5 linked regions of the Homo sapiens genome follow. The protein of the gene in region 5 interacts with the protein of the main gene of each other region in a pairwise test. Each region holds a gene or a part of one and is shown on either strand. Other genes may lie near its edges.

What was found.
Region 1: the proteins of EVL (region 5) and SPTA1 interact in a two-hybrid assay, tested with the Homo sapiens proteins (one study listed by IntAct).
Region 2: the proteins of EVL (region 5) and GDAP1 interact in binary tests that used the Homo sapiens proteins (3 or more experiments, as listed by UniProt).
Region 3: the proteins of EVL (region 5) and FXR1 interact in a two-hybrid assay, tested with the Homo sapiens proteins (one large-scale study listed by BioGRID and IntAct).
Region 4: the proteins of EVL (region 5) and SH3RF1 interact in a two-hybrid assay, tested with the Homo sapiens proteins (one large-scale study listed by BioGRID).

Annotation. Positions count from the first base shown.
Region 1 is NC_000001.11:158,610,183-158,613,715, reverse strand, and holds the end of SPTA1 (spectrin alpha chain, erythrocytic 1), read left to right. Parts: intron 1-754; coding exon 755-899; intron 900-1,201; exon of another isoform or gene 1,202-2,326; coding exon 2,327-2,452; 3' UTR 2,453-3,012; downstream 3,013-3,533.
Region 2 is NC_000008.11:74,353,385-74,356,905, reverse strand, and holds part of GDAP1 (ganglioside-induced differentiation-associated protein 1), read right to left. Parts: intron 1-3,521. UniProt on the Homo sapiens protein: Regulates the mitochondrial network by promoting mitochondrial fission.
Region 3 is NC_000003.12:180,968,165-180,971,685, reverse strand, and holds part of FXR1 (RNA-binding protein FXR1), read right to left. Parts: coding exon 3,432-3,521; intron 1,529-3,431; coding exon 1,328-1,528; intron 612-1,327; coding exon of another isoform or gene 531-611; intron 1-530. UniProt on the Homo sapiens protein: mRNA-binding protein that acts as a regulator of mRNAs translation and/or stability, and which is required for various processes, such as neurogenesis, muscle development and spermatogenesis.
Region 4 is NC_000004.12:169,096,854-169,099,973, reverse strand, and holds part of SH3RF1 (E3 ubiquitin-protein ligase SH3RF1), read left to right. Parts: intron 1-3,120. UniProt on the Homo sapiens protein: Has E3 ubiquitin-protein ligase activity. In the absence of an external substrate, it can catalyze self-ubiquitination. Stimulates ubiquitination of potassium channel KCNJ1, enhancing it's dynamin-dependent and clathrin-independent endocytosis.
Region 5 is NC_000014.9:100,127,917-100,131,437, reverse strand, and holds part of EVL (ena/VASP-like protein), read right to left. Parts: intron 2,920-3,521; coding exon 2,690-2,919; intron 1,876-2,689; coding exon 1,754-1,875; intron 1,107-1,753; exon of another isoform or gene 978-1,106; intron 802-977; exon of another isoform or gene 1-801. UniProt on the Homo sapiens protein: Ena/VASP proteins are actin-associated proteins involved in a range of processes dependent on cytoskeleton remodeling and cell polarity such as axon guidance and lamellipodial and filopodial dynamics in migrating cells.

The sequences.
Region 1 (3,533 bases), on a different chromosome or scaffold from region 5:
AACAAGACTAAGGGTCAGACCGCAGCAGGGATGGGGGTTTGGAGGGAGAAGCACAGAGAGTAAAATGATCCATAAAACATGAAATTAACTCATCTGAAAATAGGAAGAAATAGGCAACCATAAATGAATTAGGCAGCTCTTGGTGCCCTTTCAAGATTAGCTCAGCAGTGAATGGTGCTAACTTTAACTCGAGGACTAGCTTTACAATTTCTCCAATTCATGATTTATGTTCAATCTATGAATTTCAGCTACTTTTGAGGATGAGACTAGAGAGAAGAATCCCTTCATGTATGTGAGATTTTAAGGAGACATAGGTGATTCAGAGACCAACACATGGGGTTGGGGTGGTTATGTGCTTATGGGAGTGTGTTAGAATCATCAAGAGATCAAGTAACTGTTAGGGAATAATTCTTGCTAATACTAAAAACCAAAGAAGACCAGAAATTATTTGAGGACTGGTGCTGATGGGAAATTTCAAAATTCACCGAGAATCAGGCTGAATGACCCATGTTGAAACAGAGTCTGGAGCTTAGTAATATTTAGTAATATTTGGCTTAGTAATGTTTGGCTGTAAGAGGGTGATGAAGGGGAGCCAAAATGGAGAGCATAACCCATCTCATCCCAGAAAGCTTAGTTGGAAGAGGCACTTGGAGAATCTGGCTTTCCTCTGTTTCTGAGACACTGAGTAGGATTAAAAAGGGGACTTCCTTCTCTGCCTTGAGAAGGCTCAGCTCCTGATCCATTTCTCCCACAGGAAGGGCTATGTCTCACTGGAGGACTATACTGCTTTCCTGATTGACAAGGAGTCAGAAAACATCAAGTCCAGTGATGAAATAGAGAATGCCTTCCAAGCCCTGGCAGAGGGCAAGTCATATATTACCAAAGAAGACATGAAGCAGGTCCGATTCTGGTTGCTTCCCCTACTACACTGTCATCCTAATTTGAATTCTGGTCATCTCAGGCCCGGTGGCCTACTTTGAAAAAACCCACCCACTTGTTTTTTTTTTTCAGACCTCCCCTTTCACAAGATGTCATTTGCTTTGGTAACCACTTCATTTTGTCTTGACCCAACTCAAAAACGTACTGTGGTACTCTATTGAATGTGAGAGTCAATTCAAAATCTGCAACTCAGTTTTTAAGGCTATTTCTTTTTTTTTTCCTCATTAATTCAAAGAGCATTTATTGAATGCTTACTATGTTCCAGGCATGAGGAGTGCAAACTTTAGTAAGACACAGTCCCTAAATTCAGGTGTAGTGGGGAAGACAGAACTTTACAAGTTAAAAACACTGTAACAGAAGCAAACACATCTGTCATGGGAACAAAGATGTGGGGAATTTTATTACAACCAGAAGTAATCTCTCTTCTCTCTGATTCCAAGAGCTTTCTTCATTCCTCTCCTTAAAATACTTGCATCAGGGAAAGTATCATCTATGATTAACACAGGGTGAGTGTTGAAGGACGTGCAGGAACTCATCAAGTCATCAAAGGAAAGCCTAAGTGTTTCAGGCAAAGGCAAGTGTGTGTGCAAAGGAACTTGAGAAAACAGATTTTCCTAATACCTAAAGCATAAGGTAAGAAGATAGTAACAGAAAGTGAAAGGGAAAACAATTAAGCAGAAACCAGATTACAAAGGGTCACATACATGATGGTATCGTTTTGCACAAACTCATCCAATTGTCTAAACTCATCAAACTGTACACATTAAAGGTGCAATTCTTTATCAATCATACCTCGACAAAGCTGTTACAAAAAGAAAATGATGTGGTCTTCCAGACACTATCTGGAGCCACCCACCCACACGCTAACTTATTGGAGTCTTTAGGGATCCACTTGGTAATCAAACAGCACAGTGAATAGAGGAACTCTTTGGCATAAGAGGATCATAGGTTCAAGTCCCAGCTCTACCACTTTCTGGCAGTGTAACCACTGGTGAGTTATTCTACCTTCTTGAGTATTTTACCTTACTCATAAAACATGCTAGTCCCCACATCTCAAAGCAGCCAGGAAGATGAAATAGATCAAGTGGTCAACAAATGTTGTTAGGCATATAATTCCTTCTATTTAATAAAACAACTTTAGGGAATGAGATTTACAGAATAATCAAAGTGAGTAAGCTCTCTTTTTCAAGAAAGGGCTGAGATTAAAAGTTAAGTTACTCATTAGAAATTATAAATTTATGAGATAAAAATTGTGTGTAATAGAAATAGGGCTTGCGTCTTCCAGAGACTCTCCATCTCCTGCATTTATGGCGTAATATGGGAAGCCCCAAGGAACCAGCTATTTTGAATCCCTATAACTGTATTTTTCTCTTTTTATACTTTTCAGGCCCTTACCCCAGAGCAAGTGTCATTCTGTGCCACACATATGCAGCAATATATGGACCCACGGGGTCGAAGCCATCTCTCTGGCTATGACTACGTTGGCTTCACCAATTCCTACTTTGGCAACTAATAAGCAGCTCCTCGTGGATCGTAGAAAATCTTAGTGTCGTGGGAAATTTACTGGGGGGCAAAGAGTACAGGCAAATGTGGAAGATAAAGATGGCCTCGTGTGTGTGTGTGTGTGTGTGTGTGTGTGTGTGTGCTTGTGTTTGTGTGCATATTACATTTATTGTAGGATCTTAAAAAATCTCAAGGGTGGGAGATAGAAAGGTTAATAGAGTTGGAGGAGTGGAAGCTATTTTGTATGCAACTAGTCACTGCTGAGGGGTGTCAAAGTTTCTATTTTTATTTGTTCTGTTTTGCACGTCTTTATCATTTTGCTTTATTCCGATTATAGAATAAAGTAATTCTTTTTAAAAATATTTTTTGGGGCAAAGTTAAGTAAAATGTTGAGCTTCTATATTTCTGGGAACTGTACTCATATAAGAGTGGGCAGCTAATTTTACTGTAAAGAAGGGCCATGGTATAGTAGATAAATAAAATCCAAGGCAATTTTCAAACAATTTTTTTAAACTTTGGAATGTGTTTAAATTTAAATTTGAAAATAAAGATATTTGATTTTCTGGGGAACATGAATATTTTAGTTTGTACAATGAAACAACACACAGATCAGCATAACACCTGTTTTCTTCTTGTTTTTTTTCCATACTTCAAAATTATTGTAGATGTTATTACTCTCAGAAAGACAAAATTCCAGCATAGCAGGGCTTTCTCTTGTCCTCCAAGCTCCCGTATTTTCTCTTAAGTTTTAATGTAATAAAAATAATACTTCAATATCCTGTTAAAGTAACAGTTAATAGAATTATTTATAAAATTAAGAATTAATTTTAAAAAAAGAAGAGGTGATGCTATCTTCAAAAATTTTCAGGCCAGGTTTATTCTGAACAGGTTTATATGCCGACATTCTGATTTGATCTATAAAAGGTAATGGTGTCATTTGCTGGTGAGAATTCTTAGATATCTTAATTGCTGTGTATAAAACTGCTAGCGTTCTGCACAAATAGTCCCCACTTACCAATCCATTCATGTTGCCACTTGATTACCATCTTAAGTCTCAGTCCCTTCCTCTGCATAGAAATGAATCTGTGCAG
Region 2 (3,521 bases), on a different chromosome or scaffold from region 5:
CCGTCTCTACTAAAATACAAAAAATTAGCCGGGCGTGGTGGTGCGCGCCTATAGTCCCAGCTACTCGGGAGGCTGAGGCAGGGGAATCGCTTGAACCCAGGAGGTGGAGGTTGCAGGGAGCCGAGATTGCGCCACTGCACTCCAGCCTGGTGACAGAGCGAGACTCCGTCTCAAAAAAAAAAAAAAAAATATATATATATATACACACACACAAACACACACACACACACACACACACACACACACTAAATAATATTAAACAATTAAGTTATGACCTGAGGCAAAAGATATGGTAGCAAACTGATTGATTACAATTCAGTGCTGTCATAACTCTTGAACTAGAAAGAGCAAATCTAAATACAGATAAGAAAAAAAACAAAAAGACCCGGTGTCAAATTATATCAGTTCACTGTATGCATCCAGGATTTTGAGACAAATTTATAGCATTATTGTCAATAAATTTTATGCACTATACATTAAATGTTTAACTACTTTTAACTGGTATTACAGTTAAGACTTTTAACAGAAACATTTTTAATGATGGAAGCAAAAATTCCTTTATCAGACAGTTTGTTCCAATTGTTAGATACATATTATATAGAAAGAGGGCCTCTGAATTTTAATACCCCCAACCTGTCTGCTAAAACTGGACAAATCACAAAGAGAAGAAAAGTTACTTTTTAAAGCAACTTTTACTGACACAATAATCAAAGACTGATATTCTTTTCCATGCCATATGGTATATTTTCTCCACATTTTGTGCTAATCTGCAATTTCAGTATATGTGCTAAAAGGCCTATATTCAACTATATACAAGAGCCTTTTCTTGATGAACACAAATATAAATATTAATTGGTAATTCCTTAAATAACTATTTTTAATATAACAGTGACATCAGAATTAACGTTCTTTTTTAAATGTTACATTTGATGAAATTCAAATGTAACATTTAAATGTATTTTATAAATAACATTGTATCTATAAATTTAGATATCCTAATAAGATTTACGTGATTTTAATATCATACTAGAATAGTTTATTTCCAAACTAAATTCTATTTCCTAAGAATAAATTATATATCTAGACATAAGACATGAACGTGATGTTCAGAGAACTGTTACATTAAATCACAAAAATCCATTATTCTTGATTCCAGGTTACCAGAGTTATTTGGTAGTAATACATATGTTCTAGTATTTTATAGTTATTCCATATAATTTTGATTAGTAGCCAAGTTAAATTTTATTTAAAGAGGTTATGAGTACAATAGATAGATTGAAAAATCCACATTTGTGTGTACATTCACCTTGTCACATCCATTCTTTCTCAGTTTACCTAGTTTGCTTACTCTCATACCTTATCTAGCTTAATCAATTGCTTGCTGTAAAATAACTATTCCTCACCACATGCTCAGAGTTAAAGAGGTATCATGTACATGAAAGAGTCTATAAAACTGTACAGTAATAGCAAGTATATATGTTAAGGACAGATTTGGAATTATCAGCAAACTTATAGAAAGAAATTATCTTTGAAGACTAGCAAGCTGCTAATGATTTCGGATCTTTAAAACATCTCTGAAGTATCCCAGGACCCTATACCAAATTAATACCCAATAAATGGTTACTTAAAGAATAAATGAAGAGATAGCTCTCGGCCAGCTCTTAGTTTGGCAGTCAGGAGCATCATTCATGTCTATACCATTCTTCTGTATGACTGCTTTCCAAAAAAAAATCAAATACAGCCATTATCCAACAGATATTCACTATTTCAGGCTATGACTTGAAAAGGGTGACCTCAGCTACCAAACTACCAATTATTTAATGAACTATCCCGAAAGTACAAGGATAGAAATATGTAAATGTAAACAAAAAAGTTGAAAAATGTTTCTAGATCAGCAAGTCATCGTTTTTCGCATAATCCCCACTGGATCGATAACAAGGGACAGCAAATAACAGTGAAGGACATACTGGTTCACTACATTCTGTTCTTTAGAGGAATGGCTACACTTACAGTCTCCTGTCATGACCATGGGCGACTGCACACCTCATGAAATCCATCCACTTATTCTATCTCATCAACATTCCTCAAAGTTACATCCATAATTGGACAAAATGTCAACTATTCCAAACAGCTCAGAATGCAGAGGGTTACAACTCACCCTGTTCTCAACAAAATTTACAGTTTTCAAAGAACCTGAAATCACACTAGCCATTTGTTTTAACATTGGTAACTTACTATCTATTAACCAGGTTCCCCATTCTTTTGGAATGCAGCTGGTTTTTTAAAACAAAAGTCTCATGCCTATTTTCCTCATAGCCATTTTACATTTAGCCTTGTTAAACTTTATCTTATTTTTCCATTTTGTTGTATTTCCATAAGAAATATTTTATAAGCTAGTCATCACTTTGACTATTTACCTTTTCTGTCATTCACAAATGTAATCGTATTTCTTCCATGTCTATTCAAATCATTGATTTGTTAGGCTCAAGTCAAAAAAGAAGCCTACAAGAACATTACAAGGGATCCCTGTACAGGCTAACATCTGTTTCAATAATTTATTCATTTTAATCATTCAAAATATTTATTAAGCACCTATTAAGAAACATTCACTGTATAAGGCATTGGGGATAATTTTTCATAAGATACACTATTCCCAACCTCATGGTACTTACAGTGGTGTACAATTCAAACATTTAAAATAAAGTATAAAAACAATTATAAGTAAAATGAGAGTCTATAGTTGAAGAGGTAATCTGGTATGAGAAATCTATAAAGTAATATTCTTTAATATGGTAGTTTATTCATCTGCAAATGTGCGTTACAATCTTCTAGCTATATTTGCTCCTTTATTCCACAAGGGTATATGTAACGTAATCGCAAATGTTCTACTTAAATCAAGATATACTATATCTAGAACCATGCCTGGCACATAATAGACAGTTTTTTAGAAGTGTTAGGGACATTCTCCAGCAGTGTAAAACTTAAATTGGTTCCTTTCACTGAGATACACAAAAATTTTAACATATTTAAATAACTATTCACAATCTATTCTAAATTTCCACCAGATTTAAAGACAGTAATTTACACCAGTGCTTACTTAACTAAACACTAATTTATAGCAGTATTCTCAAACTTTAATGTACATACGAATCACATGGGGCTCTTGTTAAAACAAAGATTCTAATTTGATAGGTCTGCAGAGAGCTCTAAGGTTCTGCAGTTCTAACAAGCTCCCAGGTGACACCAATGCTGCTGATGAATGGAACATACAATTAGTAGCAAGGGTTGGTAGAATTCACTTTTCCCCGTCTTTGACAATAGGATGTTTGTCTATCTTGTCTGACTTTCATTCTCCATGAGTTCTTAAAGATAAAGCATCTTAATTATAATTGTGATAACGCTGTTTTTAAAATTTCAGTACTCTGAGATAAACTTCTTCTTGACCTCGATTTATATAACTTAGCCTTGATTTATATAAACTATTGTTCTCTTGCTGTCGTCCTATCTACCATAAGTTTTGG
Region 3 (3,521 bases), on a different chromosome or scaffold from region 5:
GGCATCACACTACAATAAACAAACAAAAACAACATGCATTCCTCGCATTAGGTTAAAGACACCTTCAAATATTTTTCTCTTTTATACTTTTTTTTTAATTGTGGGTATTACAACTCCCACAAAAATGAGGTGCTGAATTCAGATATAGTAAGCAGGCACCATGCAAAAGCTGCCCAGTTTTGCCAATCAACCTTGATCACAATCTACAACACAGTCCCTCGGATGGCAGGCCCCATCTCAAGTGTGAAGAAACTGCCAAGTGAACAAAATGGTCTTCTCAACAGTATTTCCATGTAAACAATTAGGACACAACATTAGTTCAATTAGACAAGTTACTAACACACTGTGAAGGAAGAATGCATTTTCTTAATAGTAGTAGTCTTATTAGTTGAATAAACAATTTATGCAATGCAAATTTTGAATGTATATGCACACATGTGTACATGTAAGTATAATATATTTAGAAAGCAGACATAGACATTTTTTTCATGCTTGTGACCTGATGGTGTCCACAGGTCCACTCAAGTTACCTGGCTGTCTATCTTCTGCCTGACCCCTGAAGCGACGCCTGCGGCTACGATTGCGTCGCTGGGGTTTTTTTTCACTATCATCTGTAATTGCAAAGTTTACCATGAACTATTCTGACAAAAACAAACAAAAAAACAAAAAAACCTTCTTTCCTTCAAAGATTTAAAGGGGAAAAATAAACTTTTAATTAAACACAAAAATAAAACAACAAATGTTTACTGACAGGAAATACATTTTTGTAGCTTTCAGCATTCCAAATGGATTAAAAATGGAATTATCATCTGGAAATTCAGAGGGTTTTAACTCACAGTAAAACTCAGACTTAAACTGCCATCATTCAGGGACACAGTCTTCCTCTCTAGTACAGTTTGGTTTATACCGAAGTTAATGACATTTTAGCCCTTGAAAATTAATGCCTACTCTTGATATATGTACCTTTACCAGTGTCATTTATAATTATTTTAAAAGAGGCAAGATGAAAGCCTGATTTTAGCTTGGGGACAATAAAAGCACTAAGTACCTTGCCAGCTGAATATTTGTACTGATTTAATGGCATCAAAGGGCACTTTAACCCTCCAAGTTTCAAATAATTTGGCTATAACAAATCTGAGAACTAAACATTTAAGATAGACAAAAAGCTATCTACCTTGTTCAAAGTAAACACTAAGAAAAAGTCAATTTGTGAATTGCATATTTCTTTGAAAAAAGCTTCATATACTAACAATAGTTTACAATTATATATATATATATATATATATATATATATATATATATTTCTCTTCCCTAAGTGCTTACATACCTAGCCCATTTTCATTAACTGAAGCTGTATCAGATTCAGTCATTCCATCCATCAGAACAGCATCTTCATCAGTCCTTCGTCTACGAGACCGCCTACGACGGTTAGTACTGTGATGAGATTCGCTGGCATCAGTGTCTGCAGTCTGATCTGATTCTGTATTATCAAGTAAGCTGTATGGATTGCTGTCTGGATCTTTGAGCACTATATTCATGTCAGAGGCAAGAAATATTCGTTTAAGAGTACTGCAATTATGAATGTTTGATCTATATTGAACTATATCAATGACAAATAAACTTCAGTCTCCCCCAATAAAAATGCACTGTCTTCAAATAAAATGTTTTCAATATTATTTACCTGGAAAATAACAAAGATAATTAAATATGATAAAACTTTAAGTGGTGATGAAAAATTAAAGCAGAAAGTAAGCAGACATCTTGGCTTCCTAACATTTCCTGTGCCTTGTTTTTAAAATATACATTAGAAAATAGTGTATTAAATGCTAATTCTTGCATTCACATTTCAAGGTAATCCTGCCCAGAGACTAGAAAAACAAAAATGAAAAGAAACAAATATTCAGCTGTTAAGAAATAATTATAAGAGCGAGCTTTCATCCCCTTAACTGAGTTCAAAATGACTGCAGCTTTGTTGTGTTGATGTTGATGGACTGTTTCCCAAATAATATTCAATACCTGCATTCCATGACATAATAGAAATCCGTAACTGAACTGAAGCAATCAAGACAAGTTGAAACAAAGCAGCCAATTAAATAAGGTTGAACTTCTAACTGGTTATGAAAGGAAAATGTTGAAACGAATGCTGACTAGTACTCCATCTTTAGAAACATTATGGAAGGTGATGTGAAGGTGGAAAAGGAAAAACTGTAAGGTACAATTCATAAGAAAAATACCCATCTTACCTATGTGCATTTATTACCTCCAACAATCAAATTTATAGAAGAAATTCACCTAATTCCGATTTTTCCTAAGATTCCTTTGGTAACAGCTAGCAAGCTAAGCATCTTTGCAAAAGACACTAAGCGTATCCATTAATCATAAAACACTAGGTCAAGTACATTTATTTTGCAATTCAGTATACTGTAATTTTAAACACCTTGGTAACTGTACAAAGTGTACTAAAATATAAAAACTATTACCCTGAAAGCCTGTAAACTAAACTTAAGGCTCAAAGAGTATTACTGTGGAAAGGGAGAAAATCTAAACAAACAAAGAACAAGTTCCTAATTTTTGCCCTGATTTGTTCCAGTTTTTGTAATTTGTAAGCACAGTTGGCATCTATATTTAATGTATCTACACACACTTTCTATAATATTAAAATACTACATAAGTTTTCATGGGTATAACATTAAGGAAGGTGCGGGTTTCTTAACGTGGTATACCATAATGATATGTTAAAGTTATATCCTTAATATAGTCTATGTATCTATCCCTGGCAATTAACTCCCTAGCCCGTTATGGTAACCAAGGATATTCTGGAAACTCCTACAACTTAATGTAAAGCATAAAAAAATTTTAGAAGACAGAAGTAATTAAGTAAAACGTTTCCTACACCCTCAAATCTTTAGTCATCCAAACACTCCTCTTTACAGCACAGTTCCTCCAACAATTAAAAAACTTAGTTAATTCCACAATTTTTCCCTGTTCCCAAAGTACTACATAGTGTAGCTAAGAATGCTCTTCACTTCGTTTTCAATATTAAGTATAGAAAAGTACTGACATCTCTCTGTGCATTAGAAATCTCTGGGTCTGTCTGGCAAACAAAAAAACATAACCCCAAAATTCTAGGGAAAACAAAAAAAATTCTAATTAAATAAGCCTCCAAAACCTGAAGAGAGAAACATCTGACCCTCATCATATAAAGAAAAGCTGCCAACTAAAGTTCTGACCAGTATATTCTAAGTAAACCTTCACTGAGAAACACTCTACGAGGGCTTTTCCTGATACTGCTATATGGTCCACTACTTTCTCTAAGACAATGAGTAGCAAGAGAAACTTCCAAAAATGGGTGGCCCTGGGAGATGAATTAACTTTTGTAAAATTAAACTGTTTACAAATAATGGATGCTGACAGAGTATAGAAAAGACTACCAGAACTGATGGAGGATTTGCCACCACGTGGTCCACCACGACCTCGACCCCCTGAAACACTTCTGCCTCTTCCTCCTGGGCGTCTCCTGC
Region 4 (3,120 bases), on a different chromosome or scaffold from region 5:
CAAGATCAGGACCTGAGCTGGAAGATTTCTAAGTAGAGTCTATTACTCCTGCACCTGGTAGTCTTCATACGATCAAGACTGTGTCACAGTTTCCATTATGCACATAGTTTCTCATTCCACCCGCCCCCCCAGAGGTTTATAAAACTTAGCAATGAAAATTTGCTCCCACTGGGAACTTGGCAGGAAGAGTATGTTCTTAGCCCAGCAGCAGTTCTAGTTCAAAATTTTTTTTTGACAAAATTGGTTTAGTGCATTTTATAAAATGCATATATTAATCTAATTCACTTCAAGTTTTTCAATAACCATTTTTATTCCATTTCACCTTTAAGGCAGCTCACAGAGAACAAGTAGGGAATATATCTCATGAGAAGTCTACTCTGAATATGTTTTGAGTCACTTGTACATTTTTTCCCAGAATTATAAAGCTTTGCCTTAAATGTTTAACTTGCCCCACATGGCAACTACATCATTGCTTTTTCATGGATTTTTAGCATGTTGACATTAGACTTGAGAAATGTCATCTGGATCCTTCTTTCAGATAAATTCATGATGAAATTATTTGTCTTGCTTTTAAAGGTGTCAGAGAGCTGGGCATAGCGGCTTATGTCTATAATCCCAGCACTTTCTGGGGCTGAGGCTGGAAGATTGCTTGAGCCAAGGAGTTCAAGACCAGCCTGGGCAATATAGTGAGATGCCATCCCTACAAAAAGTAAAAAGATTAACCAGGTTTGGTGGCACACACCTGTAGTCCCAGCCGGAAGGCTGAGGTAGGAAGATCAGTTAAGCCTGGGAGGTCAAGGCTACAGTGAGCTGTGATTGCATCACTGCACACCAGCCTGGGCAACAAAGTAAGACCGTCTCAAAATAAAGATATCAAAGAAGGGATTCCAAAACCCTAACTGTGTTGATCTAAAGTTTGTCAAATCTCATTTTCAGGAAATGAGGCCTGAGTTGTGGCCTGAGTTCGTTTCCTAGTTAGAGATGTCCAGCCACTGACTGGCCCATTCTTCACCTCCTTGAAGTGCCAGGCCTCTGCCTACTCTTGTCTAAGCCATATGATCATAATGGGAGCTAATATTTTCAGGTTGAACTCTTTGTCAGACACCATACGAAGAGCATCATACTTGTTTAACTCATTACAGTCCTATTCTACAGATGAGGAAACAGACTGAGAGCTGAGATAACTGGCCCAAAGTTAAGCTGCTCTAACTGACCTTAAAGACTGTGTCAATCCTTAGGCCAGTGTTTCTCCCGCTGTGTCATGCTTCCTTCCTCATTCCATGCTTGATCAAACCCCAGCCTTGTGGTCTATGAATATTCATGTTTGAATTAGCTGAACCTTTCTCAGATATGATAAGCCAACTTCTGTGCTGTGCTTTTGCTTCAGATCTTGGGTAGTAATTTGGTCCCTGTGCCAAAGGAGCTCAGGTTGTTCAAGCAGCCACTTACCTTTTGCAGAGATGTGTTTTTTTAGTGTAATAGTCTGGGACTCTTGCTGTGGTCTTTCTTAAATGGATTTTGGTTTATATGGAATGGGAATTGGTGAAAGGGGCAGGCTGTAATAGGTTTCAGAAGTTTGGGGACAGTTGTATAGAATTTGTTCTGCCTATCATTTTGAAGCCATAATATTTTTCACTTTCAGTCAGGAGTGGGTCCCACGAGGCTATACACTCATTTTCTGACTTTGAGAACCAAATGAAAGTAGAAACCCAAAATCAACTTTATGACTGACTACTCATTACTTAGCATCAAACAGTGAAAGATGTATTTATTAGATATCTGTTGCCATGTAACCAGTTACGCCCAAAAGTCAGTGGCTTAAAACAATAATAAGCATGTATTATTTCACACTTTCTGTGGGTCACATAATTATGGAACAGCTCATCTGGTTGGTTCTGGCTTAGAGTATTTCTTGAGATTGTAGTCAAGACATCAGCCTGAGCTGATGCTCAACTGGGGCTGGAGGATCCCCTTCTAAGATGGCTTATTCACATCACTTTTTCTGGTTAGTTTAGGCTTTTGGAAAGAGGCCTCAGTGCCTTACCATGTGTTTCCTCTCCATAGAGATGTTGAGTGTCCTCACAACATGGCAGCCAGTTTTCCTGAGTGACCGATCCAAGAGAAAGTAAAGTGGAAGCCATAATGCCTTTTATGATCTAGCCTCAGAAATCACCCACTGTCATTTCTGCAACATTTTATTGGCCACACAGGTCATCCTGTGCATCATAGGAGGAGACTACACAAGAGTGTGAATACCAGGAAGCAAGGATCACTAGGGCCATCTTGGAGGTTGGCTACCATACACCACCATTCTTTTCCCCCCTTTTGTTGAGAAGAGGAGTAATGCAAATAATGCTGGAAAAATAGAGAAAGATAAAAGGATATAGAGTGTAAAACAAGTCACCTCCCTCTCGTTTCCTACAAGCTGTAATTCTGCACAGGAAGGCTAAGGAGCATGGAGGCAGGGGCACAGATAATATTAAACCAACTAAGCTTCTGCCATTTTTAAGCGATAATGACACCTTTCCCACTAACTCCAAATTCTGAGCCAAGGAGAAACAGACCCAAATGTCAGAATAATAGAGATGAGAATGTCAACCTCGTTACTGGTAATGTTGGATTGAACTTGTGGCCATAGCCCTCCCCTCCATGTCTGGACCTTGGGACTACCTTCCCAAGGGATAATCTGGGTATGTGGGGCAGATTACCTTCCTCAGAATTGCTGCCTCGCCCATGTCAAACACCAGTGTAAGGGACGTAGGGACACAGAGACAGACTTCCAGACTCACCTTCCTGACCTCTGTGTGCTTACAACATAGAGGTGGAGCAGAGCCTCCTTAGCCTGTGGGCAGGCGGTTCAGAGAGGACTGAACCCCCCCTGCTCAGCTACTTCTCCCAGTCTCACCAATCAAATAAATTCACTCCTGTTTCCTTGGAGAAGAGGGAGGGATAGAAATGATACCCCTCTCGGGAAATGAAATGAAACTCTCCTTTATGGCCAAGATACAAACACTGGTAGGGAACAAGGATGGCTGTCCTTGTTAAGGTCACTCAGATGAACCAGTCTGGGCCATCAGTAGTGGGTTGACACACATATCCAAATCCAGTCTTTGTTAGTAC
Region 5 (3,521 bases):
CACTTTCATCGTCGGCTCCACCCAGTAGCCATCACTGAGGTGGATTTCAGAGAGCACCTGATTGATCCCTGCTGAGCTATGCAAAGCATGTTTGTTCTTGGGAGGGCCTTGACTCTCCCACCGGCATCTGGCATCTCACTGGCTCCTGGCAATACTGGCCTTTTCCTGTTCTCAGACAGAAAGGTGCTTCCCCTCAGCTTGGTCTAGGACTTAGGGAAAGCATTCATATTTTCTTTTCCAAAACTATTTCTATTTCTCTGTGGCCCATCCTCGCCTCTGAGTGCTCTGAGGTGGAACCCGATGCCCTGCACCAGGAGGCTCCCTCTTCCAGCCTGACTTTTGGTCCATTTCCTCCACACCTAGCTCTCCAGGCACAGGGGGCGTCAGCCTTCCCAGCCTTACCTTAACTCTGCCCACTGTCCCTCTTACAGCACGGGACGTCCTCATCGTTCTGCGAGCCCTCCCGGCTCTCTCACCCACGGAGCCATTCGCCTTTGTGTGGCCACTGTAAGCCCCACACACCTGGACTTACTCTCACAGGAAACTGCTCAGAAGCCTGCCTCCTGTCTTGGCGATGTACAAACGCCCAGGCCCAGTAGAGGCTCCGGAGACGCCCGTGCTGCGGATCCACCTTGCTGCTCCCTGACACACGGGGAGCCTCCCCTCCCTGCCATCTGTGATGCAAGCAAAGAGCCCCTTGGCAGGAAACCCAGGCTGTGGCCCTGCCATGAAGCGCCACACCAGCTGCCTGCAGCTGTGGGCCTCTGTCATCTCGCATCATCCTCATGGAGCCACGGGAAGGTAATGAGAGGAACTAGGACTGCAGTGTGAAGACCCTGGGCACACAGAGTTCTCACTTGGGTCAGCCAATTGGAAGGCAGCTGGGAGGGCCAGGAGAAGGCGACAAAGTGGCAGGGGGTGGAGGTGGGGTTACCAAGGGAGCAGGGCCCCCGCTGCAGCTTCCTCTGTTCTGGCAGGTGAGGCCTACTCCCGTGCCCTCTGGTGCCTAAGTGAGCCACGATATTGGTAGTCCAAGGTGAGCACATTCCTGATGCCAAGTCATATTTAAAAATAAAATCCAAGCTTTGCATCCCTTTTGAGAAAGACCTGGACGATCTCCCCATCTGCTCGGGTTTCATTTGGGGAACAGCGGAGAGCCACAATGGCAGGCTGCAGCCACACCCGCTGCAGCGAGCAGACACACATGGCCAGGTCTCAGGCCCAAGAGCCCGGCCGGGATGTAGATGGAACTACTCTCTCTCCGTCGCTCAGGGCAATGCCCTCTGGGCTCCTACCCTTCATAACTCCTTCTCCTGAGTCCTCCATAAAGAACCCTGGAGAATGGGGTGCCTTCACCACACATTCACCAGAGTGTCCTCTGCAAACTCGACCACTGCGGCCACATCTTATTTCTGTTAGGATCTTAAGAGCAAGGACTGTTCTTTTTCCCGCATTTATCTCTGAAATTGTCTCCACATTTATCTCTGCTCAGGACAGGGCTGGTACATGGTAGATGCTTCAGGAAATATTTGCTGAGCTAAAATGAAGGATCTGGAGTTTAGAGGACTCCTGTGGGCTTGCGCTTCAGACTAACCCCTTGGGAAGGGAAAACTTAAGTAACAGTTTCCCCTGCTTGGCTAAACCCAGGGAACAAAGATTCTGGGGTCAAGAGAGGATTCTCTGTGCAGCGCTGGGGGCGGGGGCAGGAGCTTCCTGCTAGGCACACCAAGTCTCGGGAGGTGTAGAGACCCACCTCTTGGCCAGCAGTTTGTTCATTTCCTCCATGAGGCCTCCTCCGCCACCCCCGCTGCTTGCCCGGTTGGCATCGGACTTTGAGGTCCCACTGGGACTGGAGCCTCCAGATGCGTCTTCTGGCTGAGGAAAAAGGAGGCCGCGTTTTAGATTCTGCTGCTGATGGCAGAACAGGAGCAGCAACGATGTGAGGGGATGCAGGGGACTGTGTGCGTGTGAATCCTATGGCAGCAGCACTGCAAGGGGCCTCAGGGGCCATCTGGTCCATTATTCTCCAACCCCACAGGGGAGAAAACCAGAATCGAGAGAGGGACAAGGACCAGCCCAGGTCACACAAGTCGCAGACACTCCCCAGGCCTGCAGACTCATGGTTAGTGTCTTTGCCAAGACCAGCCATGACACATGGAGGGAGGGAGGGAGGGGAGAAGAGACTATCCTGTGGGAAGGAAACACAATGTAAGCCAAAGGTCTGTATTAGAGCTATTCTTACAAGCACAGTTCTAGAACATATGAGCAAGGGTTAGGGAAGAAACAGCCGGGTGGACCTAGTTGCCAGCATACAGCTTCCTACAGTGGAAAGGGCAATGGACATAGATTCAGGAGACCCAGGCTTGAGTCCAAAATCTGCAATTTGTAAACGGTGTGACTTGAGCAAATTACTCGTGCTCTTTGTGCTTCAATTTCCTCATCTCTAAAGGGGGACATAGTTCTTGCCCCACGTGTGAAGGTCAACGTGAGGCTCAAAGGCTAACTTCATAATTTCAAAGTGCTGTCCCATGTGATTTCTCGTTTGAGAACAAGTGGCCAAGGGCCAGCTAGCTTTGGGCAGGGAAGCAGTTTGCTGTGTCTCGCAGATGCGGGAAGGAACACAAGCGCTCTGCAGATGGCACAAGGGTCCCCTCGGTCCCATTCCCACCCCGCACACAGGAGCTCTTACCCGTTGGACTCTTCTCAGCTTGGCCCCAGCTATGGCAGCGGCCAGTCCTGACATGGAGCTCTCGTCGTGGCTGGACCCCTGGGCTCCTCCGGCTGGCAGTGGGGGTGGGGGAGGTGGGGTAGCCCCAGTGGGTGGAGGTGGGACTGGGGGTGGGGGGGGCGGTGGAGGCCCACTACATGAGACGGGGGCGCTGGCTGCAGATGAAGGATGTCCTGGTGGGAGGATGGGCCCTGAAACACAACAGTGAGGCTCAGCCAGCTCCAGCACCCAGCTGGGGGCCAAGCCTGCTGCTCTCAGCTCAGGTTCCCCGGAGGAAGGACAGGGGCAGGCTGCTCCCCAAAGGGATGAGAAACAGCTCCAGGCCTGCTTCATCCAGGAAGCCTCCGCGGGATGAACTTGGCTCTGGCACAATTATTCCCTATTCTGGTGTCCTCAGTACTCCGGGGCCTGGCTGGACCCACAGGTGTCCTCTATTTGCTTAACATTCCTTGAGCCCAGGCAATTTCCTCTTGCTCCAATCATGTTTTTCCAGGGGGAGAGGAAGCTGTCTGGTTACAGTCTGTGCCTCTTCTCTTCTCTGCTCCTTCTAAGCACCTAGCACCCCCTAGGCAGAAGTTGGTCACCAAGATCCAACTGTGACTGACACTTGGGTCGTTGGGGGCCGTGGCAGGTCCTGTGGGTCCCAGGGCCGACTGGGGGCATGGGTCAGGGCGCAATGCCGAGTGCTGGGCTCCAGCATCATCCATCCAGCCCCTTCCGCCAGTGCTGCCTAAGCCTGTTTTGTGCCAGGCACTGTGCTAGGTGCTGGGTATGGTGCTGAGGAAAACCAGCC